Homo sapiens: one gene and its partners. The protein of the gene in region 2 purifies or fractionates together with the protein of the main gene of each other region. This does not show direct contact. Each region holds a gene or a part of one and is shown on either strand. Other genes may lie near its edges. The genes, in order: PCDHGB5, SLC30A6, NCOA4, PPP6R1, ABI1, MAN1B1 and IQGAP3.

The links.
Region 1: the proteins of SLC30A6 (region 2) and PCDHGB5 purify together in Homo sapiens (affinity purification with mass spectrometry; one large-scale study listed by BioGRID and IntAct). This does not show direct contact.
Region 3: the proteins of SLC30A6 (region 2) and NCOA4 purify together in Homo sapiens (affinity purification with mass spectrometry; one large-scale study listed by BioGRID and IntAct). This does not show direct contact.
Region 4: the proteins of SLC30A6 (region 2) and PPP6R1 purify together in Homo sapiens (affinity purification with mass spectrometry; one large-scale study listed by BioGRID and IntAct). This does not show direct contact.
Region 5: the proteins of SLC30A6 (region 2) and ABI1 purify together in Homo sapiens (affinity purification with mass spectrometry; one large-scale study listed by BioGRID and IntAct). This does not show direct contact.
Region 6: the proteins of SLC30A6 (region 2) and MAN1B1 purify together in Homo sapiens (affinity purification with mass spectrometry; one large-scale study listed by BioGRID and IntAct). This does not show direct contact.
Region 7: the proteins of SLC30A6 (region 2) and IQGAP3 purify together in Homo sapiens (affinity purification with mass spectrometry; one large-scale study listed by BioGRID and IntAct). This does not show direct contact.

What each region holds. Positions count from the first base shown.
Region 1 is NC_000005.10:141,495,251-141,499,262, forward strand, and holds part of PCDHGB5 (protocadherin gamma-B5 isoform 1 precursor), read left to right. Parts: intron 1-4,012. UniProt on the Homo sapiens protein: Potential calcium-dependent cell-adhesion protein. May be involved in the establishment and maintenance of specific neuronal connections in the brain.
Region 2 is NC_000002.12:32,203,514-32,207,525, forward strand, and holds part of SLC30A6 (zinc transporter 6), read left to right. Parts: exon of another isoform or gene 1-705; intron 706-1,076; coding exon 1,077-1,179; intron 1,180-3,372; coding exon 3,373-3,420; intron 3,421-4,012. UniProt on the Homo sapiens protein: Has probably no intrinsic transporter activity but together with SLC30A5 forms a functional zinc ion:proton antiporter heterodimer, mediating zinc entry into the lumen of organelles along the secretory pathway.
Region 3 is NC_000010.11:46,020,397-46,024,408, forward strand, and holds part of NCOA4 (nuclear receptor coactivator 4), read right to left. Parts: intron 2,983-4,012; exon of another isoform or gene 2,934-2,982; intron 1-2,933. UniProt on the Homo sapiens protein: Cargo receptor for the autophagic turnover of the iron-binding ferritin complex, playing a central role in iron homeostasis. Acts as an adapter for delivery of ferritin to lysosomes and autophagic degradation of ferritin, a process named ferritinophagy.
Region 4 is NC_000019.10:55,248,676-55,252,687, reverse strand, and holds part of PPP6R1 (serine/threonine-protein phosphatase 6 regulatory subunit 1), read left to right. Parts: intron 1-558; coding exon of another isoform or gene 559-594; intron 595-4,012. UniProt on the Homo sapiens protein: Regulatory subunit of protein phosphatase 6 (PP6). May function as a scaffolding PP6 subunit. Involved in the PP6-mediated dephosphorylation of NFKBIE opposing its degradation in response to TNF-alpha.
Region 5 is NC_000010.11:26,745,705-26,749,648, forward strand, and holds the end of ABI1 (abl interactor 1), read right to left. Parts: intron 3,042-3,944; coding exon 2,866-3,041; 3' UTR 892-2,865; downstream 1-891. Other genes in the region: all trans-polyprenyl-diphosphate synthase PDSS1, read left to right, coding at 629-769. UniProt on the Homo sapiens protein: May act in negative regulation of cell growth and transformation by interacting with nonreceptor tyrosine kinases ABL1 and/or ABL2. May play a role in regulation of EGF-induced Erk pathway activation. Involved in cytoskeletal reorganization and EGFR signaling.
Region 6 is NC_000009.12:137,106,621-137,109,982, reverse strand, and holds the end of MAN1B1 (endoplasmic reticulum mannosyl-oligosaccharide 1,2-alpha-mannosidase), read right to left. Parts: intron 3,295-3,362; coding exon 3,174-3,294; intron 2,734-3,173; coding exon 2,536-2,733; intron 2,453-2,535; coding exon 2,321-2,452; coding exon of another isoform or gene 2,021-2,320; exon of another isoform or gene 1,605-2,020; intron 1,596-1,604; coding exon 1,392-1,595; 3' UTR 800-1,391; downstream 1-799. UniProt on the Homo sapiens protein: Involved in glycoprotein quality control targeting of misfolded glycoproteins for degradation.
Region 7 is NC_000001.11:156,569,766-156,573,838, reverse strand, and holds the start of IQGAP3 (ras GTPase-activating-like protein IQGAP3), read left to right. Parts: upstream 1-1,273; 5' UTR 1,274-1,309; coding exon 1,310-1,346; coding exon of another isoform or gene 1,347-1,361; intron 1,362-4,073.

The DNA of each region.
Region 1 (4,012 bases), on a different chromosome or scaffold from region 2:
GGCAGAAAAGCATTTGACCGGAGGAGGCGGTCCGCACTCAGCGCCTCCTCCAGAGCCTCCAGAGCCGAGGCTGACTGCAGCCTGGGGAGAGTGGAGGCAGCACAGCTGGAGGTGGAACTGAGGAAGGACTGGGCGGGGCATGGAGCAGGCCCCCTTCTCCGGCCCCTCCTCCCACTGTCCTCTGCCCCTACTTGTCCTGCTCTCTGTCTGTGGGGTCTCCGTGTCTCTGCCCCTTTTTCTTGAGTTTCCGTCTTTGCCACTTTCTCTTACCTCTCAGTCCTTCCCTCAGTCTCTATCTCGCTTTGCAATCTCTGCCTCTCCCTCTCTTCTCCATCTCTGTCTTAGCTTCCGTCTTGATTGCTGCACCTCAGCCTCAGTCCCTTTCATTTGTCTACTTGCATTGATCTGTGCCGCCCACTGTGCCTGCCATGGCATAAGTGCTCAATAAATGTGGAGTGAGTAACTACACGGGACCCTTAGTCTCTTTCTCCTTCTCTATCTCTGCCTCCCTGTCCTTGTCCTGGACCTCTTTTCTGTTTCTCCTTTCACCGTTTCCTAGCGCCTTGTGTTCTTCTATCCCCAGCCTCTATGTTTCTCTGTCTCTCACTATTTCTGCTTTCCTCTCTGTTCTTTGTCTCTCTTTGTCTCTGTCTCTGTATATCTTTCTTTGTCTCTGTCTCTGGTCTCTGTGCCTGTTGTCTTTTTCTGCCTCTTTCTCTGTTACTCTTTCTTTATCTCTCTTTTTCTTTTATCTTGTCTTTTTTCTCTGAGCCTCTGTCTCTGTCTCTCATTTTTTTGTGCTTGTGGGCAAGCCAGCACACACAACCCCCCACCCACCACCCACCAACACCCCGCTCTCTTCCTTCCCTGCCCCTCACACACTGAGCCTTTGATCGCAGCTCTCCACCAGACACCCTCCCATCCAAGCAGCCCCAGCTGCTCATTTCAATCTGGTATGAATTCCTGCTGAGACAGGAACCCCCTGCGGGCTGAAGGGGAGGGAAACTTCAGCAGAAAGACCTTCAGTTGGTCTGAGCAGAGTGGGATAGGCTCTGCGCCAGGCCTCCCAGTTAGAAGTCAGGAGCCTGGAGGAGTCTCAGAGCCCAGGGAGAGAAGCAGGAGCTTGGGCCACCTTACCCTACCTCCTCAATGGTTGAGTACTTGCTGTCCACATTTGCCAAGTTGCTACAGATGCTGAGCTTCCAAGAGTTATCTTTCCCCCATCCTGCAACCAACCAAACCCTTGTTGCCACAAGGACCCAGGAGCCCTTGGTGTATGGCAGAGATTCCAGCTTCTGGGCATGCACAGTCCTGTCACCCATTTTAGGAACGCAAAGCGCTTCTTAGAAGGCCCCTAAAAAGCAGCAGATCAAAAGGCTTGGGCTGCCCTTGCCCTTCCTTTGACCCCAGCTGTTGTCCTTCTCCCTGCTGGCCTTGCCAACCTTCTCATAAGTTATCCATTAAGTCATTAATGTATTCATTCGTTCATTTATTCAACAAATATTTATCGAGCATCTACTATGAGCAGGGCCCTGTGCTAAACATTGGGCTATAGGAGTGAACAAGTAGATGTGATCCCAGAACTCATAGGCTTCCAGACCAGCAGAGGAGACTGAAAATTTGCAACAAGTAACACTTAAAAAAAAAAAAAAAGGCTGGGCACTGTGGTTCACGCCTGTAATCCCAGCACTTTGGGAGGCCAAGGTGGGTAGATCACTTGAGGTCAGGGGTTTGAGACCAGCCTGGCAGCCAACATGGTGAAACCCCATCTCGATTAAAAATACAAAAATTAGCCAGGCGTGGTGGCAGGCACCTGTAATCCCAGCGACTTAGGAGGCTGAGGCAGAACTGCTTGAACCCGGAAGGCAGAGGTTGCAGTGAGCTGAGATCACGAAAAAAAAATAATCTAGCCACAAATCACAGTAAGTTCTGAGAGGCAGAGAACAATGTGAGTGTAATGGGGGGGGGAAGATCAGAGAAGGCTTCTAGGAGGAGGTGACATTGAGAAGTTCTAGGCCATTTATGTTCCCTCTACCTACCACCACCCCAGGCCATACACTGGCTTTGAAGCAGAATTCACCATTGAACCTGGAAGCCCCACCAACTGCCTCTCATGTGTCCTCTGGGGTGAGCACCTTACCCCTGCCTCAACTCCCATTCCATCAAATGAGAGGCTTAGTGGCCTGGAATACATGTGGGAGCTCTTGGAGATATGGAGGAGAAGGTGCGGAACCTCTCTCTCTCTCCTCTCTCTGCTTCCTTAGTTAACTTGTGGAGGATGCAACAAACCTTTTTTTTTTTTTTTTTTAGACAGAGTCTTGCTCTGTTGCCCAAGCTGGAGTGCAGTGGTGCGATCTTGGCTCACTGCAACCTCTGCCTGCCAGGTTCAAGCGATTCTCCTGCCTCAGCCTCCCGAGTAGCTGGGACAGCAGGTGTGCACCACCACACCCAGCTCATTTTTGTATTTTTAGTAGAGATGGGTTTCGCCACGTTGGCCAGGCTGGTTTCAAACTCCCCGACCTCAACTGATCCACCTGCTTCAGCTTCCCAAAGTGCTAGAATTACAGGTGTGATCGCCCCCGGCCACAACAAACATTTTTGATTCAGCGGCTCCAAAGTGAAATAAGCGTTAGGATCTAGTCCAGTAACTTCAACTTCTCTCCTTCATTCATTCAACAAATGGTCAGTGAGCACTTTCTGTTGGCCAGGCAGTGTTCTCGATGTGGGAGGCCCCTGCCCTCAAGGAGTTTACAGTGCACTGAAGGAGACAAATATTGACCAAATAATTACAAAAATAAATGTGAGACTGAAACTGTCATAAGTGCTAGGTAGAATTGTATCTGGTGGTGTGGGCGTATAATAGGGATTTGATTTAGGGAGCAGGAGGACATCCTGGAAATGAAGTTGTGCTGAGATCTGAAAGACAAATACAAATTAACCAGCTAAAGAAAAGAAGGAAGAGCATTCCAGATGGTCAGGCATACCAGCTTCAAAGCAGGGCTGGTGTTGAGTTCTTCAGTAAACTTGGTTCAAGATCAAGCCAGCTCTGGGTCACACTGCCTACACAGAAGGAAGAGCATTCCAAATGGGAAAAGCCTATGCAAAAGCCTTGTGGTGAGGCCTCCTGGGATCAAGGGAATGGCAGGGAGTTTTCTCTTTGCTGGCACTGGAGTGAGGGGATGAAGAGGAGAGGTTCCTTTTATCCAGTCTAACCCTGGTTCCAGCCTTCTGTTGATGCCCTGCCTCACTCCCTCCCCACCATCTTGCCCACTGCCCTCCAGCCTGGTCTGGTCAGACACACCAGCTTCAAAGCAGGGCTAGTATTGAGTTCTTCAGTAAACTTGGTTCAAGTTCAAGTCAGCACTGGGTCACACTGCCTAGACAGAAGGAAGAAGACCTGGCCAGGTGTGGTGGCTCACGCCTGTAATCCCAGCACTTTGGGAGGCTGAGGTGGGTGGATCACCTGAGGTCAGGAGTTTGAGACCAGCCTGGCCAACATGATGAAACCCCATCTCTAGTAAAAATACAAAATATTAGCCAGGTGTGGTGGTGCACACCTGTAGTCCCAGCTACTCAGGAGGCTGAGGCAGGGGAATCGCTTGAACCCAGGAGGCGGAGGTTGCAGTGAGCTGAGATCACACCACTGCACTCCAGTCTGGGTGACAGAGCGAGACTCCATCAGGAAAGAAAGAAAGAAAAAGAGAGAGAGGGAGGGAGGGAGGGAAGGAAGGAAGGAAGGAAGGAAGGAAGGAAGGAAGGAAGGAAGGAAGGAAGGAAGAAAAGAAAGAAAAAGGGAGAAAAAATGAAGAAGACTTACATTCTGAAGTTCCTGCTTGGCACATGCTTCTCCTCCCCACCACTATCCCTTCTCAGGTCATCCTTTGGGTGTCTGATCCCAATAGCTGTTGTCTCAAGCTCTGAGCCCAGCAAACCATTTCCCCCTTCTTAGGCTGTAACCCAGGCCCTGCCCTGCAGCTGTCCCCAGCCTCTGCACAAAGAGTCTCCATTTGGT
Region 2 (4,012 bases):
CATCAGGCTTTGAACCACGATCTTTGATCACCTCTGATAGGGATTTGTGACCATGACTCTGGAAAGCCTAGAGGAAATACAGGATGTCAGCTGTGCTTGGAAAGAACTTAACAGAAAGCTGAGTAGTAATGCAGTGTCTCAGATTACCAGAATGTGCCTCCTGAAAGGAAATGTGCGTGTTTGCTTTGATGTTCCTACAACTAAGTCAGAAAGGTTACAGGCAGAGTGGCATGATTCCGACTGGATATTCTCAGTGCCAGCCAAATTACCTGAAATTGAAGAATATTATGATAGAAACACATCTTCTAATTCCAGACAGAGGAGTGGTTGGTCAAGTGGCCAGTCGGGCCGATCAGGTGGTCGATCTGGCAGCCGGTCAGTTAGACAGAGTCCACAAGGGAGTCGCTCAGGAAGTTGACAAGATGGTAGAAGATGAAGAGGGAATAGAAATCGATCAAGAAGTGGGAGCCACAAACGGAGTTTTGACTATTTGATAGTTAATCTACCAGTATGAGGTTGCCTATTTCTGCCTAATCATGTATATTATGCACCAAAAATTAGGTCATCATAGTTGAGGTATGTGTCTGCTATTTGCAAATAAATTGGTCATATTTTTTTAAAAAGTATTTCACAAGAATGATTGTAAACAGATCTACTTACCAGTTATACCTTTGAATTAAAAAACCTCTTTTTATTGTCTCTTTTTAAAAAAAAATTACTAGTTGAAGTTTTTTGTCTGTCTCAAGCAAATAAACATATTTCAGCTCTTTCTAGTTGACAGATAGTTTGACAAAAAAATGCCTGACGGGGAAATGTCCACATTTTTTTTCATCATACCTCTTCCTACTAATTAACATAATTATTAGTTATTTTTCCACTAAACTTTGAAAGGAAAGAATTCTAAAAACTGGAGTATTTTTCTTTGAAATGTTTCTTTGCAAGTAGTGGCCAATTGTGATAAAATTGTGTCCTGTTGCTCAGTCCTGTTGCTTTAGATAATTAATGTTCAGGAGATTTAATTGTAATATGCCCAGTGAGATATAAATTTAAAATTTAGAATTGTTTTTTCCTTTTAGTAATTATTTTGCCGTAGACACTGCCTCTGCTATAGCTATTGCCTTGATGACATTTGGCACTATGTATCCCATGAGTGTGTACAGTGGGAAAGTCTTACTCCAGGTAAGGTGCTTCTTCCAATGCACGTGCTTAATATTAGCCATGTTCTTCTACCAGATTAAAAAGTTGTATGTGTTGTTCTACAAGATTGTGAAATTTTTATTTTTATTTTTTAATTTTAATTTTTTTTTTTTTTTTTTTAGAGACAGGTCCTTGCTCTGTCACCTAGACTGGAGTACAGTGGTGGGATCTCGGCTCACTGCCGCCTTGACCTCCCAGGCTCAAAGGACCCTCCCACCTCAGTCTCCTGAGTAACAAACTACAGGCACACACCACCACACCCAGCTAATTTTTAAAAATATTTGTAGAGATGGGCTCTCACTATGTTGCCCAGGCTGATCTCAAACTCCTGGGCTCAAATGATCCTCTTGCTGCGGCCTCCCAAAGTGTTGGGACTATACGCGAGAGCCATCGTGCCCAGTCATAATTTTTAATTACAAAAGTTTTTTGGCCAGGAGAGGTGGCTCACGCTTGTAATCCCAGCACTTTGGGAGGCCAAGGCGGGCAGATCACAATGTCAGTAGTTCGAGACCAGCCTGGCCAACATGGTGAAACCCTGTCTCTACTAAAAAAATACAAAAATTAGCTGGGCGTGGTGGCGTGCACCTGTAATCCCAGCTACTCGGGAGACTGAGGCAGGAGAATTGCCTGAACCCGGGAGGCGGAGGTTGCAGTGAGCTGACATTGTACCACTGCATCCAGCCTGGGTGACAGAGCAAGACTCCATCTCAAAAAAACAAAACAACATTTTTTTTAATGCCCTCCCTTTAACAGTACAGATTGTGAAATTTTTAGTTACTGGAAGCCCCTGCTAGAAATGAAGTCAAACAATAATCTCTGACATTCATATAGTCAGAACCTGATGAAAGTCCATTAGCAAGTAAAATAGTCACAAATCTTCCTATATTTATATTGTGACAAAATCACAAATTTAAAGCTATTATTATTTTTCAAGTGAAAAGAATGTTACTTCTTTTTTTTTTTTTTTTTTTTTTGAGACAGAGTCTCTCTCTCTTGACCAGGCTGGAGTGCAGTGGCGCTACACTCAGGTCACTGCAACCTTTGCTTCCTGGGTTCAAGCGATTCTCCTACCTCAGCATCCCGAGTAGCTGGGACTACAGCCATGTGCCACCACGCCTGGCTAATTTTTGTATTTTTAGTAGAGCTGGGGTTTCACTACATTGACCAGGATGGTCTCAAATTCCTGACCTCAGGTGAGCCACCCGCCTTGAACCTCCTAAAGTGCTGGGATTACAGGCGTGAGCCACTGCACCCGGCCTGAAATTTTTTTTAGATATTTATTTTCCCTCAGTAAATGTGCTTTGGCTTTTGTGTAATCTGCTTATGACTATTTTATTATTTCCTGCCACTGAATCAGTGAGACTTTAAAATTTCAAACTTAAAATCTTAAATGACACATTGCTACTTACTGAAATGATAGGAACACCCTGAATATGAATAGAAAGGCAGTTTCCGGCCGGGCGCGGTGGCTCATGCCTGTAATCCCAGCACTTTGGGAGGCCGAGGTGGTTAGATGACGAGGTCAGGAGATCAAGACCATCCTGGCTAACACGGTGAAACCCCATCTCTACTAAAAATGCAAAAAATTAGCCGGGCATGGTGGCGAGTGCCTGTAGTCCCAGCTACTCAGGAGGCTGAGGCAGGGGAGTGGCTTGAACCCGGGAGGCGGAGCTTGCAGTGAGCCAAGATTGCGCCACTGCATTCCAGCCTGGGCGACAGAGCGAGATTCCAAAAAAAAAAAAGGCAGTTTCCCAGGGCCGGATGTGCGTGTAAGCACTGTGGTTCCTTCTGTCTTACCCTATGCCTTTTCCAAGACTTAGGGCAGTAGTTCCATCTCCAGAAAAAATAAAAATAAGATAATAGTTGCATAGTGCTATGCCCTATACAAAATACGACCTTTGTAACCATTTCCCAAAGATTTTTTGTTGGTTGGTTGGTTGTTTAAGTGTTATTTATCTTTTTATCTTATCTTCAAGATAAAAAAACAGGTGTGGGCCAGTTGATGATGTTGTTCCACTAGTGGGGCCAGTTGAAACCTCTCTTCTCTAAATCATGATAGGACAGCTGTCAAAGCAAAGGCTGGCTTAAAATCCTTTTGGGGAGGGGGTTCAGGACCATTGTTGGCAAACTTTTTTCCTTCCCCCATTATTCATATTTTATTGTATTTTTCCCCAGACAACACCACCCCATGTTATTGGTCAGTTGGACAAACTCATCAGAGAGGTAAGATGGAATAGTAAATAAAATCATTTTATTTTATATCAGGGAATTGAAAAGGTGGATACTTTTAATACTTTATTCAACTCTACCTAGAATTTTATTTGAGGGAAGTTCATGTTCTTCACAATAACATACTAGGAGCCATAATATAGTGGCAAACGTGGAAAAATATGAGGAATTGTTCAATTTGGAAATCAAATTCACTTGAAGTGAATGTGGAAGGTAATGGCCTAATGACCACCCTATTATAAATGCTATGATTTTTATTTATTTTATTTAGTTATTTAGTTATTTTTTTTTTGAGACAGTCTTGCTCTGTTGCCAGGCTGTAGTGCAGTGGCGCAATCTCAGCTCACTGCAACCTCCACCTCCCAGGCTCAAGCAATTCTCCTTCCTCGGCCTCCTGAGTAGGTGAGACTACAGGCGCGTGCCACCATGCCCAGCTAACTTTTTCTTTTTTTTTTGAGACAGAGTCTTGCTCTGTCGCCCAGGCTGGAGTGCAATGGTGCCGTCTTGGCTCACTGCAACCTCCGTCTCCCAGGTTCAAGTGATTCTCCTGCCTCAGCCTCCTGAGTAGCCGGGACTACAGATGCAA
Region 3 (4,012 bases), on a different chromosome or scaffold from region 2:
ATATGTCTACCGGCACTTAGCCTAGCACCTGCACACCGTAAGCCCTCCACATTGCAGTGGTTATTGTTATCAGGTTTAGCTGACAGGCTGTGAACAGGACCTGACAGAATCCTTTAGCCATTTATCAGGGCTATGACCTTGCACCATTTGCCCTTGTGGAACCTAACTTCCTAATTCATATGTGAGGAATATAGACTCACAGACTTAGGGGTAAGGAGGTCGTGCTTATTTAATAAATATTAGATTTCCATCTAGTCTTTCACTATACAGCACAGCAAAAGGCAATCTTTTATTTACTCCAAAAACTCAATAGTCTAAATCCTCTAATATATACCAAGTATGGATATTTTTGACTGTTTTCTTACGTGTAGAAAGATTGGACCAAATCAGCTCTGATCCTAATATTCAAATCAATAAAAGATTACTAAAAATGTCTTTTTATCTTCACCATTATAATCCAAAATATTGCCTTGCCATCTTCAAAAGAGGACTGCCTTAAATGTTTATGTTTTGAGACAACATTAAAAGTTTAAGTGCTTTCTAAAACTTCCCTGCCTCTAGTATCCCTGTCCTAAATTTGGGGGTGGAGGAAGTAAAGGAGGAGGAAACACACATACCCTTCAAACGAATAACAAAACCTGGAGTTTCCGCAACAAGGAATTCTTTAAACTATATATGCCATGCTTACACAATGCTTTGCACAAATCTATTTGTGAAGTCTGAAGATCATGGCACCAGAATTGAGCAACTAACCACAAATGAAGTGGTTATGTAATGAAGCTAAGTCATTACTGTATGGCTTAACCATAAAATTTCCAAAGAGCTTTAACTCTTGTGACCCACACAAACTACAATTTAAAGCTGAAAAATAGCTCCTCACAAGCCTCTTTAAAAAAATAAAAAATAAAGCTGGAAAAAATCTTGGTCATCTCTTTAATATAACACTCTCATTCTACATATGAAGCCACAAAAGCCCAGATAGTTTAAGTGACCCATCTGAAGGGCCACAGCCAGAAGGGGTAAGATTTGGGTTTAGAACTACAGTTTCCAAGGTCTAGTCCTGGGTTCTCTCTCCCAGATGAGCTTGTTCTTCCTTTAGTGTATTATCACCTGTAAAGTATTTTTACTTGCCAACACTAGTGATTAAAATTAACATTCCAATGGATTACTATTGAAATAACTTCCGTTAAGATTTTCAGTCAATTTTCATAGTCCTCAGTAAATTATAACCACAATTGTTCAGAATCTTCTGCCTTGGATAACACTAACAAAAATAGTACTGGCCGGGCGCGGTGACTCACGCCTGTAATCCCAGCACTTTGGGAGGCCAAGGTGGGCGGATCACCTGAGGTCAGGAGTTCGAGACCAGCCTGACCAACATGGAGAAACCCTGTCTCTAATAAAAATACAAAATTAGCCGGGCGTGGTGGCGCATGCCTGTAATTCCAGCTAATCGGGAGGCTGAGGCAGGAGAATCGCTTGAACCTGGGAGGCGGAGGTTGCAGTGGGCCAAGGTCGCAGCCATTGCACTCCAGCCTGGGCAACAGGAGCGAAATTCCATCTCAAAATAAATAAATAAATAAATAAACAGTACCCTTGTATGTCATGATAGGCTCAGAAAAACCAAAACACTGCCAAATACCAATGCAAATAGTTTTGATTCAACGTCTGTATCACAGCCACTCCAGGCTTCATTCGTCTGTAAGAATGAAAGCTCAGACTAGATCATCTGTAACCTCACCTTCCAACTCTCACATTCTCTGCCCCCCTTGCCACCTGCCCCTGCCCCTCCAAAGACCTCTACTTTTTACTTATTTGCCTGGCATCCTAGTCATTGCTAAAAGGCCAAGCGCAGCATCTATCCACAGGATACCTATGTGTTCTATGAGTACTACACTCGAAATACTAACTGAACAATTTGGTTATCTTTGATGAGACAACCTGCATTAGACCGTCTGTAAAGCTTTTAGTTTAAAAAAATTATGTTAAAAAATATTTTGCAATTTTACCTTGAGACTTTTTTCACTTCACACGTTCTTTCTTCCGTCTTTTTTTTAAAGGTTGGTTTTGGGTTTTTTTTTTGTTTTGAGACGGAGTCTAGCTCTGCCGCCCAGGCTGGAGTGCAGTGGCGCGATCTCACTGCAAGCTCCACCTCCCGGCTTCATACCATTCTCCTGTCTCAGCCTCCCAGGTAGCTGGGACTGACTACAGGCGCCCGCCGCCACGCCCGGCTAATTTTTTTGTATTTTTAGTAGAGACGGGGTTTCACCGTGTTAGCCAGGATGGTCTCGATCTCCTGACCTCGTGATCCGCCCGCCTCGGCCTCCCAAAGTGCTGGGATTACAAGCGTGAGCCACCGCGCCCGGCCTAAAGGTTGTTTTTTATACAACTCATTAACTCAAGGATTATATACATCTTACCTTAGCCCCAGCCCATTTTAAATTCCTTATCAAGACAAGCAGTTTCTGAAATCCAGAATCTGGTTCTCTGTAATCTTTTTAAAACCACACAAACAAACGTTAATATCGCAACAGATTTAAAATAAGATAATAATAAATTCACTATTGAACATTTTAAGATTTAACACTTCAGAGTTTACTAGGCTCAGATTTGTCCACCTTTATACAAGCAACTGAGGGCAATAAATCCCAGCACATCAATTTTCTAAAGTAGTAACTGAAAACCGACCGCAAGGCATTTCTAATTCGAAAACAAGGCATTTCTAATACGAAAGCAACAGTGACTCATGCGGCTTTCTAGACTTCCCAAAAGCCCTTTCCAAGCGGCCTCAGGAGCCCTTGCCCTCGCCCCGGTCGCCGATTCGCACGCAGTTGTGCAGTCAGCCGCTGCGACCCGGCTCCTGCCCGGCGCCAGCCCTGCAAGGCTACCGGCCTCAAGGGCTCCCGCTACGGCCCCTGGGCTGCCAGACGTACCTCACAGGCCAGGTCACCGACTCACCAGCTGCCCGGCAAGCGACAGGCTGCTTTACCCCTGACCCGAGTGCGAAAGGTCCCCGAGCCCGGGCCTCGTCCCGCCCACGCGTCACACGGCAACTCCAGTTCGCCCGGGCCACTAGCGAGCTGGAGCGCTCAAGCCAAGGGCGGGGAGGAGCGGAAAACTCCGCCCATTGTTGCCCTGCTCCCAGCCAGTCCCCGCTGGCGCTCGCGGCCCCCCTGCAGCTCCCTCCCCGCTGGGCCTCCCTGCTAGACGCCTGCTGCCCCCGCCCGGCCCCCAGGGTAAGGCCAGCTAGAAGGACCTCGGATGGCACCTGGGGCTCCTCTCCAGCCTCTCCTCTCCCCACTTGCTCCACCCGATAATGGGCCCAACTCAATGAGAATTATATATGAACTATAATGAATTACATGAATTAAAATGTTTAGGACAGTGCCTGGCAATATAGCCCTACCTACCTGTGACTATCATGCTTATGGTACTTCTAGCTTTCCCTTTTCTCCAAGATAATCCTCATAGCCTGCATATGCAATCAGGCCAAAAGATGAAATCTAGACAATGTTGTAATTCTATTACCTTTCAGTCGATTTTTTGAATGTAAAATACTTGCTGTTGTCTATGCATATAAAGCTGTTTTTGTTAATATTAAGAGTAAAGCAAAATCACATGAGAAACACCAAAGGGGAACACTAAGGAGCCATTACCCTAAATTAAGTATCCCTTAGATTTCAGATGAACAGAGTGGAAGTGCCTGCTTTGTCTGTGATGCATACAATTTCTGGGACCCCAATCCAGGCATTCATTATCAAAAATAAGAAAATTTCTCCCTAATTCCAAAAGCCCTCCTTGGATAATACATTTCGTAAAGACACAAAAAAAACAGACATACTTCTGAATGACTAAAGTTACAATTTTATGGTCCTTTGTACTAATTTACATCAATGGCAACAAAGAAGGAATTCTATTAAAATATAACTCATGTCAGGAACTTTCATCTATTTTATGTGCCTCTGAAAAATGGCTGATCACAATGTAAATACAAAGAAACTTTGTTGGCCGT
Region 4 (4,012 bases), on a different chromosome or scaffold from region 2:
TGATTCATGCCTGTAATCCCAGTGCTTTGGGAGGCCCAGGCAGGCGGATCACAAGGTCAGTAGTTCGAGACCAGCCTGGCCAATATGGTGAAACCCCGTCTTTACTAAAAAAACACACACAAAAATTAGCTGGGTGTGGTGGCGCACTCCTGTAATCCCAGGTACTCAGGCTGAGGTGGGAGAATTGCTTAAAACCGGGAGGCGGAGATTGCAGTGAGCCGAGATCGCGCCGCTGCACTCCAGCCTGGGTGACAGAGCGAAACTCTGTCTCAAAAAAAAAAAAAAAAAAAATCAGCCAAGAATGGTGGTGCGCACCTGTAGTCCCCACTACTCGGGAGGCTGAGGCAGGAGATATGCTTGAACCCAGGAGCTGGAGGTTGCGGTGAGCCGAGATCGCGCCACTGCACTCCAGGCTGGGTGACAGAGAGAGACTCTGTCTCAAGAAAAAAAATAATAAATAAAGGGTACAATTCAGTGGTTCTTAGTGTATTCACAACGTTGTGGAAACATCACCACAATTGATTTTGGAACTTTTTTTTAATCACCCTTTCCTTTCAGGAACTTCGCCCAATCCCCGCCAGCTCCTGGAAGCCTGTAAGCTCTTTTCTGTCTCTATGGATTTGCCTGTTCTGGATGCTTCACATAGTTGGAGGCCTGCAGTGTGTGGTTCCTTGGGACTGGCTTTGCTGGCATGGCATGGGCAGCCTATCAGCCTGCTTGGTCTCCCACGGAGAAAGAGGCTGTGTGTGTGTGCTTGCCACGTCTCGGTGCTTTGCTCGCCACAGCCTTAGGCCGGAAATTGGCAGAGTCATGATAAATTTGGCGGTTGCCCCTTGAGATTATTCTGGTCCCAGGTACACCCAGATCAGGAAATCCATTCCCCCTCCCGCTTCCCTCAGCACGCTGGTGAGTCACCTTTGCTGAGCCTGAGTTTTCTCATCTGTGACATGGACACTTGGTGGTCGGCCTGTCGCATTCCTTGTCAAGCGGGCTGGGAAGTAGGGGATGGTCCCTTGAGGAGGTCTAGCATCTGGGCAGAAGTGGGGAGGTGGGGAGTTACCACTGTGCACACAGAGGTTCCCGGAGCAAGGAAGGGAAACAGTTGTATTTCCTTGTGAGGTGGTGGTGCCTTCGTCACTCTTGACACAGGGGAAAATACACACCCATTGCCTGCCCAGGGCGATCTTGCACTTTCCCCCACCTCCTGATTTAGGGACCCCGTAGGAGTGGCTGGGAGGGGCCGGAGTGGGAGTGATTTCACTTCGTCTAACGCCCTGACAGGTACGGCAGCCTCCTGCCTGGGAGGAGCTGGGGCCTTGTGAAAATGAGGTTTGCTTTTCAGCTAATACTTGTGAGCGTTTATTGCCAGGGCCAGGTTCCATGCTAGGTGCTGCCCTCAGGTGCCCATGGTAACCTAGGGGGAAGGTTCTAGAGGAAGCATTGTAGGGCCACGAGTGTGTACCTCCAGTGCTTCATTGCTGTGTCACAGAGATGCTTCCAGGCGGCAGGTCAGAACGCACAGCTCAGGGAGACAGGGAGACAGTGGTGGACAAAGGCGGGGCTGGGGGCTGCTTGAGCCAGGCAGGCCAGGGAAGGCCCTTCTGTGAGGTGAATGCTTAGTAAGAGATCTGAGGATGAGAAAGTGAGTTATTAGGACAAAGTCGCTGGGGTAGACCCAAGCTTAGTGTGTTCTGAAAACAGAAGGCCAGCTTGGCCAGGGCAAGTAGGGAGTGGGAGGTCATTGAGGGTCCCAGGCGCTGACCCGATGAGAGGGCGGTTCTGATTTTCCCTTCAGCAAGCTCTGCATGGCTGTGGGGAGAGGGAACGAGCAGGGGTCGCCTGCGGTCGAGTGTGGGGGGCCTGCCGTCAAGTGGTGGTCATGCAGGCAGAAGGGGTGGGATGGTTATGTTTGGGGAGGTCAGCGGTGCCTGGGTCGGGGTGGGAGGCCTGATAAGTCCCTAGATTTCTGGTGGTGCTGGGTTGGAGGAGAACTCAGGCCTCTGGCCGAACTGTGCTGTCACAGCTGGGCTGGGAGGGTCCTGAGGACCACAGCCCTCCATCCTGAATCCAGGGATGTCTGTTGAGTAAGCACTAGCAGCTGGGGACAAGGTGGACAGGGAGTTTACCATCCAGACAGGTCCCTTCAGGGTGGGCCTGGAAATGGCAGGCTCCTCCCTGAGGTGAGAGTCGGGGTCACTGTGGCCAGGGCTAGTCCCTCAGGCAGAGCAAGTGCTGGAGCCGGCTCAGCGGGAACTCGCTCATTCATCCCTTAAGTGTCCACTACACAGGCCCTGTGCTGGGACAAGGGCTCTGCACCCTGAAAATACAACTTCTGAAAGCTGAGAGTGCCAGCTTCACTGCCCGCCAACCCCTGGATCGGGGCATAGGCATTTACTTTGGTGTGCCTCAGTTTCCTCTCCTGTAAAATAAGGCCATTCCCTGGAGGGTGGTTGTGAGAGTTGGTGGAGGTGATGGCTGTGAAGTCCTTTTCAGAGTAGTCAGCGCAGTGCAGGTGCTGGAGCGCAGTGGCTGATACCATCGACATCATTGCCTGGAATGCCCCCATCCACCCAGACCCGCAGGGCCTCCTGGATATCCATCCAGCACTGTGCCTCAGGCAGCCACGGGCTGTGCAGGAGACACCTGAAGTGGCAGCCCCAGGAGCACTGGCGAGGTGGCATGGGGCACGGCCTCCCCAGGGCACTGGGGTCACCGTGGGCATGGAGGTCAGTCAGTGAGCTGGCTGGGCAGGGGCACGAGAGCCTGGATGCAGGCTTGGTGGAGTGCACATCACCGAGCAGGTGCGGGTACTCATGTTTGTGCTTTAAAAGGATTTTTTTTTTTTTCCGAGACAGAGTGTTGCTCTGCCACCCAGGCTGGAGTGCAGTGGCGCAATCTCGACTCACTGCAACCTCCGCTCCCGGGTTCAGGCAGTTCTCCTGCCTCAGCCTCCCGAGTAGCTGGGACTATAGGCACACACCACCATGCCCGGCTAATTTTTGTATTTTTAGTAGACACGGGGTTTCATCATGTTGGCCAGACTGGTGTCAAACTCCTGACCCCGGGTGATCTGCCTGCCTGGGCCTCCCAAAGTGCTGGGATTATAGGCGTGAGCCACCACACCCAACCTTAGAAGGAATATTGGGAGTCTGGGCATGGTGGCTCATGCCTGTAATCCCAACACTTTGAGAGGCCCAGGTGGGCGGATCACCTGAGGTTAGGAGTTCAAGGCCAGCCTGGCTAACGTGGTGAAATCCCATCTCTACCAAAATAGAAAAATTAGCCGGGTGTGGTGGCAGATGCTTGTAGTACCAGCTACTAGGGAGGTTGAGGCGGAAGAATCGCCTGAACCCGGGAGGTGAAGGTTGAGGTGAACCTAGATTGTGCCACTGCATTCCAGCCTGGGCAACAGAGTGAGACTCCTCAAAAACAAAGGATTATTGGGAAAAGTGGACTGGTGAGGGGTAAGTGGTGAGTCACTGGGTGCTGTGGACTGGGACCTGGCAGGCCCCCCAGAGGAGCAGGGGTTCAAATGCCTGGAGGCTGCTGCTATCTCCCCTAGTCCTCCTGCTGCCGCCATGACTGTCGTTGGTCACGGAACTCTTCCCTCTGCTCCACCCTCAACTGTCATTGGCCAGGTGTAGGGACCCATATAGTGTTATATCAAGATTGTTGCCAATCTAGAGTTACCGAGGCAGACGGGCAGACTGGGAGCAAGGTCTGGACTGCAACCTTCTGTGCTGAGCCCAGCCTTAGGGTGGTCAGGGTGGATGAGCAAGGAGATCCTGGCCCCAGGCTGGCCTGGCTTCAAGCTAGCCAGGAAGGAGAGGAAAGGAGGCCCAAGAGGCGTTCGACCTGCCTGAGGCCATGTGTGGGACTCTGTCCTGCGTTTTGTCAGCCCAGGCTGCTCTCCTAAGCTCCGATGAAGTCTCTTCCCTGGGCCTGGTGCTCCACGTCTCCCTGTCTCTTCCCTGGGGCCTGGGGCTGAGTCAGGCCTGGGGGCTGGTGGGCA
Region 5 (3,944 bases), on a different chromosome or scaffold from region 2:
GGCATGGTGGCACGCGCCTGTAGTCCCAGCTACTTGGGAGGCTGAGGCAGGACAATCGCTTGAGCCCGGGAGGTGAAGGTTGCAGTGAGCCAAGATCATGTCATGCACTCTAGCTTGGGTGACAGAGTGAGACCCTGTCTCAAAAAAAAAGAAAAAAGAAAAAAAAAACTATTGGATAAAGTGAGTGCCTTTGGAAGAAAGGAAGCTGATTTTCATCATAAACCCTCTGTACTTTCATTTTGTTATGTCTTTATTCTTTATTTTTTAAGTAAGTTTTACTTGTGTTTTTTTTACATTTAAAAATGTTGTATAAAGATACTTTGTACATAGAACTTCTGAGAAATTCTAATAAGTAAAAATTAGGGGAAAACGAATGACTATGTAATATTGATGAGCTAGTTGCTTTGCATGCTAATAGAATAAAAATTTGCTTCAATATGAGAAAAAGGCCTAAAGGAAGTTAGCACTATGAGTCGGGAAAAGAACATTAGAGATGTAGTTTGACTGTTAACTGTAATCCTCAGCTCATCTGATCTCAAAACTATGTGTTCATTTATTATAGCAGGAAGTTAAAACGCTGATTCAGTCAGTGACAGGCATCTGTTCTGTTTTGTTCTGTATCTTATAGAGTGATGGTGTGCAACAAACAACCTACCTCGCCCAGCAGTACTGCCATGAAGCAATAAGAGAGATCAGTAAACTTCGACCATCCCCAGAAAGAGATGCCCTCATTCAGCTTTCAGAAATTGTACTCACAAGAGATAAATGACAACTCTTTCTGTTCTTTCTGGCAGCTATCTTACCAGACTGTGCCTAAAGAATTTTGTGGAATACACTTTGTTTGCTTCATGTGCAGATAACCAAAAATCATTTTAAAAGATATCAAACTTATTGATGGGCAATTTATTTTTTTTTATTGCAAAAGTTTTTTCAGAAAACTTTTTAAATGTAATTAATAAACCACCTGAATCTGTCATTCTAGTCCTATAAATTATAATCAAGGTATCTTGATGGTTATATGTGGTATTGTTTACACTGTTAATATCCACATGTAAGGCCATTACACAAATAAATAACCAATGTTAAAATTCAAATGGTTTGTCTTGATTTACCGTAGGAGTAAAGGTCAGAAAAATGTGAAGTCTGCATTGAAGTCCACATGAGTTATATTTTAACAGTATCCAAAATTTCATATAGGAGAATGGTTTATTATAAAAGACTGTACATAAAATTTAGACAACAGGTTATATACAAATTAAGAGAACAATCCACTTGAAAAATGGAAAGTAGAAGGTAGCTAGCTGATCACTAATGATACTTTGTTTGTTTAAAATTAACAAAGGCAAAATGCATATGAAATAGTCACATTGATTTGGTAGCAATAATGGTCTTTAATTTTCAGAAATAACTGTTTTGCACTAGTCTTACCATTCACTATGCTGTTATAAGTCTGTAGCATCCAGTACATAACTGTAATTTGAATTCCAAACAAATCCTCAATAACACAGAAACCCACACTTGAGTGCTCTACTTTAATATCCTAAGCAATAGAGAATTATACACAAGACAAGAAGAGAAAACATCCCTCAGCCCTCCCTTCAATTAAGAGGAGACACACAAAGTGCATGTGTTGCATTTTGATTATGTCAAAAGACAATCCAAGTCTGTTGGTTAGGTAAATCTCTGTTCACTGATTAATACATGACCCACCTTCTTTCCCAATTATTTTATTTTAAAATTCTAATGTTGCTAGTGCCAGGTAATGGATTAAAGAGTGCCTACTCACAAATCAACTGTATCCACTTTTACAATATGTAAAAGGTACTTTTAACTTCCTTTCATTGAACCAGTGTACAACAGTTCACTGTACAACTGAAGGACTGACATGGCAATCCTTAAGAATTTTACCTACAGAATGAATGCACACAATTTGACACATTTTCTTAGTTTCAAAAGATTATTTAAAAAAGGAATTCAGTAGATTGACTTGTAAATAACCATTGCAGATTTTGAATCTGCAAAAATCCGTCACATTGCTGTTGGGACAGATTAAGATAAGGCTAAAATTTTTTTCCAAGTTAACATATTGAGAAAATAGAATCATAATTCTGCAATAAATCATTATCTTTTATTTTTTTTAAAGCAAATCAGTGAAGGAAAGGACAAAAACCTTTGGTTCACTTATGTATTTATGAATGGAAAAAGTTTATAATGCAAATTTCACTCATTAAAAAACTTAGGTACAAATTACAACATTACAGATAATTCTCTTTTTGCTTGTTTCACATGGAGACCTTGGAGACTCAATTCACGTTAAGACACCTAAGTACGAGTCCTCCAGGTAAATATTACACAAATGGGAAGCATCTTGAATTTTTAAGTATATTTCAATACATAAATTTTTATGCATGCTTTAAACAAACAGTATTTTTTTTAAATGAGAGAATCTAACAAAAAAAGTCTGACCAGCACCAGCATTTAAATTTTCTGATTTTAATATTAGTCTGACATAGCGTTAGTAACCATGCTGCACTGAAACATGTAATGGTACAATCTGAATCATGATTCGTTAAATATTATACCCCACTTCCCCCAGAATATTTAGGCTGGTCATAAAGTTAAAAATGTGTAAGTAAGTACATAAGCATAATCAGTTATGGACAGCTTCTTGTATAAATTGCTATTCAGCAATACATAAACTGCCTCAAAGATTTATGCTTACAGGTAGACATTCAATTTACCAATAAAACAGCATGTTCTGAAAATATGGGCACATTTTAAAACATATTAAGACAGTTCTGTTAACCATAATAGTCCCACAGTATGACTGAGTAATAAGAATCTACTTCAAAAGAAAAAAAAAAATTAATCAGTATAGTGCATGATTGATTCAACATAGTTCCCAGGGAACAGACCAGTCACTCGATTGCAGACTCCTTCATACCAGCCATCATCATTCTTCTTTATAACATAAATGATTGCACCCTCCATAAATGACAGCTCATCATCCTTGTCTTTTGTATAATCATATATTGCAACAACTATGGAAAAAACAGTTGAAATATCACATGAGTGCACTATATCCAAAATTTACTTGAATTTTAAGACAAAGACAATTAAATATATAGCACAGCAAAACTATTTTTATGAAGATTTCTTAATTTTTGTATCTATCAATATAAGTAGGTCAGTGGCCAACCATGTACTTAAATCATTGGCTTAATCTTAGAGCCAAATGACAATCTGATTAGACTGAATACATCAATAGGTTCTGTCAATCACTTTAAGAAAGCTCTCTGAATTTTAGAATTTATTAGATGTTTCAATTCATTCAAATACCAAGTGCCTATCATATGCAAAGCACCGGCTTTTCAAAATAATTATCAGGCAAAGAAAGCTGCATAGCCATTCAGTAAACCAGGTAACAATCCAAGCTATCTAATTTGAAAAAACACAGTTACTGGAAGGTAAATCACATCCTACTCATTCAAGGACCCATGCTAATTTAAGGGACTGTCCCCAGATTTTTTTTTAAAGAATATTTACTTACTTTAAAGGATTTTAATTAATACTTAGAGAACTTTGCAATTCTGTGGTGTCTGTAATTTTTTCAGTTCAAGATACAGGTTGAGTAACCCTTATCTGAAATGCCTGGGATCAGAACTGCTTTGGATTTGGGATTTTCAGATTTTGGAATTTTACATATGCGTAATGAGACATCTTGGAGATGGGACCCAAGTCTAAACACAAAACTCATTTTTGTTTCACATACACCTTATACACATAGTCTGAAGGTAATTTTATTTTTCCCTTGGGAACACTGAATAAACTGTGTCATGTGCCTGCATTTTGATTGTGACCCATCACGTGAGGTCAGGTGTGGAATTTTCCACTTGCGGCATCATGTTGGAACTCATTTTGGATTTTGGAGCATTTTGAATTTG
Region 6 (3,362 bases), on a different chromosome or scaffold from region 2:
GTGACAAGGGGCAGGCGCCAGGGTCACATGACAGCCGATGTTCTCACCTTTCCAGGCACAGAGGGTGGAGTGCAGGATCAGGGCCCAGCATGAAGTGGGAGACGAAGCCCCAGGGTGCCCACTGTCCCCAGAGGGACACAGGTGGCTGCTGTGGGATGTTGGGGGTTGTGGGGACAGGCAGAGCCGAGGCCCACACTCGGGGCCCGGACGTCCCGAGGGGCGGAGCTGGCAATCCTGGGCTGGGTCCGGGTAGCCCTGCCCTGTGCCGCCACCGGCTCTGGCTTCCCAGGGAAGGGGAGTCTTCCGGAAGTGAAGGTGATGGATTTTTCACAGGGGAGAGCGAGGGGGCGTGGTCCTAAGAGGTCACCTGGTTCAGGGTCGGGGGGAACCCAGCCAAGGCCCAGGGTCAGCCCTGGGATAGGGACAGCAGTAGAGTGATGATGAGGACAACTCTGCCACCACAGCCCAGGGCTCGGGGCCATAGCCATGCCAGGCTGCTGGGAGCTGCCTGACCTGAGGGCCCGTGTATCCCTCAGCTGTGCGCCTCAGTGCCAGCCCTGCAGGGAAACAGGCCCTGTGTGAAACGCAGGCGCAAGGATGCCTCCCGCCAAGCATCTGCCCCGTGGGGCCAGGGACACGGAGCTTCCCCGTGGCCTCTCCCTGCCCACCAGCAGGGGACAGCTAGAGTCCAGTCTCAGCAAACCGAATTCTGAGACGTGACTTGAAGAATACCTTCTCCCCAACGTCCGCCCAGACTTTCCAGTCATGGAGATCCCTAAAGACACAGGCGACATCGCGGTTAGAGCAAATCAACTTTTATCTCCACCGAAAAGACCCATTCCACTGGAGGGGCCCGTGAGCTAGACGGACTTGCCGTCCAGCCCTCCAAGCCCCCTGCGGGGCGGCCAGGAGGATCCCTGAGTCCAGCTTGTAAACACCAGAGCCAGCCCTGGAGCCTCAGGCCTCTGGAGTCACGGCAGCCCCTCCAGACCCTTGGATTGGGGACATCTGAGGCTTCACGAGCCCGGGCAGAGCTGCACCCTGGGCTGTCCACTCGGTCACCCCAGTACCAGGGACCACCTCGAAGCCCCCCTCTGGTCGGCCCACAGAGACCTGCTCAGGCTTCAGCAATCGTGAGTCATGATTCGTGTCTTCTGGAGGAAGCAGGCGGAGGCTCCAGCGGCCCAGCCCACCCCGCATCACACCAAGACTGACGGCCTCACTTGTCCTCACGGTGTCCTGATTAAAGCAGAGACGAGGAGGAGCCCAGAGCCAGTTCAGAGCCTGGGCCACTTGGCGGTTGCCGGTGCTACGTGGGCCCTTGGAAAATGCCACAGACCCAGCAAGGTGCCTCTGCCCACCCGAAGTCCCCACACCAGCAGCCATCCACCCTAGGCAGGGGTCCAGATAGGCAGAGGGTGGGCTTCGGTGTTGAACACGTAGGCATCCAGGCTGAGCAGGTTTGGGTCATCGGAGAAGAGCAAGAACAGATACTTGAGCGTCTCCCCCAGGAAGAAGCTCTCCATCTTGTCCCTAGGCTCGGGCTTCTGAGGATCCTGGACATTGTTGATGGAAGAATAGCCACCCGAGGGGACCTGTGCAGCAGCCAGGGCCTCGTCACCACACGGGGGGCACCCTGCACCCCCCTCAGCCTCATCACCGAAGCGCTCTCCACCCCATGGTGAATGTGGCCCCCAGCGCAAGCTCAGGGTGGAGGGCGCCTGGATGATGGCCACCCCCAGGCGAGCCGTGTGGTTCCACCGGAGCCCACCTGGAAATGCCAACAACCCTCAAGTGACCACGACAGAAACCGCCTCCCCCAGAACCTGGGCTCAGGGGGCCTCACAGTTGCCGCACAGGGCACAGGGCACAGGGCAGACGGTGGGAGCGGAGGCAGCGGGGGCCTCAGGCCAAGATCACAGCAGAGCCAGGAAGTGACACTCTGGCGTGGAGGGCGTGACCTAAAACAGGGCCTGGTCCACAGTGGGGATGGTGCCCCAGTCATGGGTGCGTGTGCCTCCTAAACTGGGGGGATGCTGGGCCCACAGCAGAGACCCTCCCTAGACAGGCCCTGAGAAATGAAAATGAGGGGTGCCCAGCCCCTCCAAGTACTCTGGGTCCCACAACCATGAAGCTCAGTGGGGATGGGGATGCCAGGGCCCCCAAGCTGCAGTGTGGCCACCCCGAGGCTGCGGCAAGCCCGCCCCTCCCGGATCCAGGTCACAGCCACCACCAAGAGCGGAGCCAGCCTGAGCCCCACAGCCCAGCCGTGCCTGTGGCCCGGTGGCCGTGACCACGCGGGGCGAGGACAGGTGCTCACCCGTGTGAATCGGCTGAAGCTCTGCAGAATCTCCCAGCCCCAGTCCTGGTATTTGCGGTCCCCTGTGACGCGGTACAGGTAGAACAGGCTCTCCACGGTCTCTGGCCGCAGCAGGTTGTGCCTGTCTGCTGGCTGTGGGCGGAGCAGAGCTCAGGGCAAGGCCAGCCCTGCCAGCACCCTCCTCCTGATGGACCCTGACCCAGGCCCAGGCCCACCTTGACCTCCACGTCCCGACGGCCCGGCTGGGGGTAAAGGTTGAAGTGCACGATCTCGGGACTCAGCCCCGTCTCCATCTGCCGGTTCATCTGGTAACAAGTCTCCATGAGCTCCTGGGCCAGCTCCATGTGGCTGGCGGGCAGGCCGTGGTAGACGCCCAGAGCCAGCGTCCCTGGCAGGAAGCACACCAGGTGGTCCTGGAATCAGAGGGTCTCTTCAGCCCCAGATCCCAGGCCCTGCCCTCAGCCTGCAGCTGCACGGGCAGCCAACGTGGGAGCCCAGCGCTGCCTCGGCCCTGGTACCCTGGGAGGGGAGGCCACGCGAGGGCACTTGGCATGGAACAGCGGAGCTGCCTGGACCAGGCCCTCCAACCCGGCCCCCACACACCGCCCGAGGACCTGCTACACACCGGGCACGGGGAGGGAGCTGCCCTGGGGAAGCCCTGCCCACCCCAGGTGCCACACAAGGCCTTACTGCCCTGTTGCCAAGACAGGCCTGGCCAGGCAGCCACGGTCCACCCAGGGCCTCCACGTGGGCGCCATGGCCAGGATTTCGTTCTTTTTGACATCATGACTCAGGCACCTTGGAAGCCAAGGTAAAAGGGGCGGCGGCCGGAAGGCCCCGCAGACACACTCACCATCTTGGCACTGAAGCGGCCGTGGGCAAGCTCCCCCACAAAGGTGAGCTTACTGGGCTCGGAGTGCCGCAGCAGGTGCGTTCTGACACCCTCGATGGCTTCCACGTAGTCTTCCAGCAGCCTGTGGACACCAGCAGTCATCTCACTCTACCAGGACGGTGCATCGGCTCCCGTGGGGCACCAGGGACA
Region 7 (4,073 bases), on a different chromosome or scaffold from region 2:
TTCAGCATAGTTGTTGGTGTCATAATTATTTTTTATTAGTTCAGGCTCTTTTTTTTTTTTTTTTTTTTTTTTTTGAGACGGCGTCTCACTCTGTCGCCCAGGCTGGAGTGCAGTGGCACAGTCTCAGCTCACTGCAACCTCTGCCTCCTGGGTTCAAGCGATTCTCCTGCCTCAGCCTCCGGAGTACCTGGGATTACAGGCATACCCCACCACGCCTGGCTAATATTTGTATTTTTACTAGAGATGGGGTTTCACCATGTTGGCCTGTCTGGTCTTGAACTCCTGACCTCAGTTAATCTGCCCGCCTCCGCCTCCCAAAGTGCTGGGATTACAGGTGTGAACCACCGTGCCTGGCCTAGTTCAGGCTCTTATTATCTCTCTTCTGTGCTACTGCAGTAGCCTTCCAACTGGTCTCTGCCCCTAGCCTCACCCCCTTCCAATCCCCTGCTATAAGATGGCTCTTTTTAAAGGACAAATCTGGCTCTGACCTATGTCTAAAGTGTTCCTTGGCTGGTGACTGCTCACCAGACCCCATGCCAGGGCCCTAGCATGGTGCCCAAGGTGCTACTGGACCTGGCCCTGTGCCTCCAGGATCCCTTCTGGCCTCTCCCTGGCTGAGCTTTGTTCTCCTCTAAAACTGAACCAAGTTTAAGTTCCCGAACTCACCTCCTCGTTCTTGCACATGCTGTCTCCACTGACTGCACTGCCTCTCTTCTTCAATCTGATGAATTCTCTTTCACTTCTCAACCCAAATCAGCTGTCACTTCCACCAGGACGTCTTCCCTGTCATTCGCTGCTCTTATTCACAGCAATGACCCCCTCCCTCTGTGCATCACCGACCTCTAATTTATTTGACTATATGTCTATCACTTGTGCCAGAACAGCAAACTCTTTTAGAGCATTCACTGCCCTCATACATCTCTGCATTCGCATCACCTAGCTTAGTGCATAGCGCCAAGTAGGCCCACAAGTTAGCCGGACTCGGGAACACATAGGAAGCAGAGTAGGGGTTAATGGGAATACTAGGTGGAGATGACAGAGGCAATGGCAGGGGCAGCAGCTAGAATAAGACTGTTAAGCAGAAAAGGAGCCTGGAAGGAACAAGACGAGGAACTGCTGTAAGGGGAGCGGTACTGCCCCGGCCTGGGGCGCCTCTTCTCCCAGCACCTGGGCGGCCCGGCTCCGCGGCCGGGAACTACAAATCCCAGGATTCTCAGCGGTGTGGACGGGAAGTGTCCTGTCTGGCGGTGCCGACGGTGAGGGGCGGTGGCCCAACGGCGGGAGATTCAAACCTGGAAGAAGGAGGAACATGGAGAGGAGAGCAGCGGGCCCAGGCTGGGCAGCCTGTGAGTGCGGAGAGGGTCAGAGAAGGGTCTCGCAGTGGTGCCGCTGGTCGGGGGCTTGGCTGTCCCGGGAGAGATTGGGGCGTGTGTCGGGCGTGAAGCCTGAGGGGCGAGGGCGGTGGGACTGCTCAGTGGGACGGGAATCCTCAGCCCGGGCGCCGTGGGCCCGAGTGGAACTGTGAGCGGCGCATTGTCCCCTGACTAATGTGCTGCGCTTTAAAGCTTACAAAGAACTTTCTTCCTATTTCCAAGTTCTGGGGTTCCGGAGTCGGGAGAATGTAGGTGATCCTAATGGCTCCTTGAAATTCAGCAGTTACTGCTGGCTACCAAACTTGCCCAGCGATGCCACCGGACAAGACGCCTCAAGGGATCTGGGGGACTCTTAGGCTTTGAGATGCCGCTTTCAGACAATGCCTGTCAAACAGGGGGTGAAATTACCCGGGAAGCTTGTTTGAGATGCAGATTCCTGGGACCTGTCCCAGAGCTTCAGTTCCAGAAGGTCTGGTTTGGGGCCCATAATCTGCATTTATAACAAGCACTGCTGTGCTTCTTCCCTCACCCCAGGTGATTGTGAGGAAGGTAGTCCCTGGGCCACATTTTCAAAGACACTGTTTTAGAGAGAGAGACTGGAGCTGGAAGGATGGGTGGGGCAGAAAGGTTCTATCTGATTTTCTGAATGAAAGGAAAACCTGCTCCTTCCACCACTCCCTTCCTTTCTATTAGGATTCAAAGAGCAAAGTCCATGTCCAGTCTTCTGTTAAAGGAAAACTAGTTCCAGACCTGAGAAGGACAGGAAAACTGTTTTTCGGTTTTTTATTTTTTTGAGACAGCATGTGTATGTACAAAATCCCTCCCATCGCCCACAGTCCTCAGTTCATAACTCTGAGATGATGTCATTCACTTACTGGTTTATTTTCCATGCTTAACAACCAACACTTGTTCCTTGTACACCCCCTTGGAGGAACTGATGGCTTTCCTGTGGTTGGCCAGTGTTTTCAAATCTGTATTTGGAGGGGTGTGTGTGTGTGTGCACGCATGTGTTTTAATTTACTTAACTGCTCATTCATATAAGCTCTGCCCTTCCCTGAATCATTGCAGAATATGCAATATAAGGAAATAGGATAACAACCGGGAATGACATTAAGTGCTGAGTCAAAGACAGATTGGCTAAGCTCTGCCTTTTTTCAAGCTCTCTGAGTTTATTTTCTTACTGTGTGTGTAGCTTTCTCTTACTCTTTCTGTTTGATTTTGTATTGTGTTTCTAAGGAGAATAGAGAGAGGGGAGAGAAGGGAGAAGGATTAAGGGAGACTGTAACTAAGGCAAATTATGATTGCTGTCTCACTTGAGGGATTCTCTATTCTTGAGTTTTGGAATCAGTACTCTGTATTTTATTTAGCTTGAAGATTCTTTTCCTCCTCGGGTGACCTATACCAAAAAGGATAGTGAAGATACCTTTGTGATCTTTTAAAATTTTCTTTGTCCTTCCACTTAATCCCAAGTGAGTGGCATGTTTCCCTCTGTTGGACTGCCTTTCCCTGTGTTCCGCCTATTTATTCCTTAAGATCTAGTTCATAGCTAGAATCCTTTGCTTCCTCTGCTGCTCCCATAGATTTTATGCATGGGCTATAATCATACTTATCATGTTAGATTAATTTATTCAGATGTTTTTCTCTTCTGATAATAATCTTTGGGCGCTGTGGTTCACGCCTGTAATCCCAGCACTTTGGGAGGCCAAGGCGGGAGGATCACTTGAGCCCAGGAGTCCAAGACCAGCCTGGGCAACATGGTGAGAACCAGTCTCAACAAAAAACGCAAGAATTAGCCAGACATGGTGGTGCGCACCTGTGGTCCCAGCTATTTGGTGGTGGGGGGGCTGAGGTGGGAAGATCACCTGAGCCCAGGAGGTCAAGGCTGCACTACTGCACTCCAGCCTGGGTGACAGAGTGACACCCTGTTTCAAAAACAAAACAAACCCACCAATATCTCTGTTGTCCAGGATGGAGTGCAGTGGCACGATCATGGCTAACCGCAGCCTAGACCTCCTGGGCTCAGGTCTAGGCCCAGTAGCTGGGAGTACAGGTTTGCACCATCACACCAGGCTAATTTGTGTATTTTTTGTCAAGACAGGGTCTCACCATGTTGCCCAGGCTGGTCTCAAACTTCTGGGCTCAAGCGATCCACCTACCTCAGCATCCAGAAGTACTGGGATTATAGGCATGAGCCACCATGCAGGCCTTTATCTCTGCATTTCTTAAGAGTAGGGGTCTGCTAGTCCAGTGCCTGGCATAAAGGAGGTATTGATGAATGAATGAATGAGTGAATGATGAATTCTGGTTGGTTCTATTACCTCACCTCTGAGAGAGTAACCAACGAGGATGACACAGGTCCAGTTCTTGGAGAACTCAGTCTAATTAGGGATAAGAAAAGGAGTTAAGTTTCAAGCCAAGGAAGGCTCTGGATGTCCCAGCTGGGAGGTACTGAGGGAAGTTCCATGAGTAGACTTGAGGAGGAAGAGGACAGGAAGATGGCTACAGAGGAAAGAGAAGTAATGCCTCCAGCACAGGAGGAGGCTGCCTATTAAAGGGTATCCTGGGAAGAGAAGGAGGGACACATGGGAGATGTTTCAGGTCTCTGAGCAGGGTTGCCTAAACAAGTCTGTTGAGAAGATGTTTCGGCTGGGCATGGTGGCGGCTCAAGCCTGTAATGCCAGCACTTTGGGAGGCCAAGGC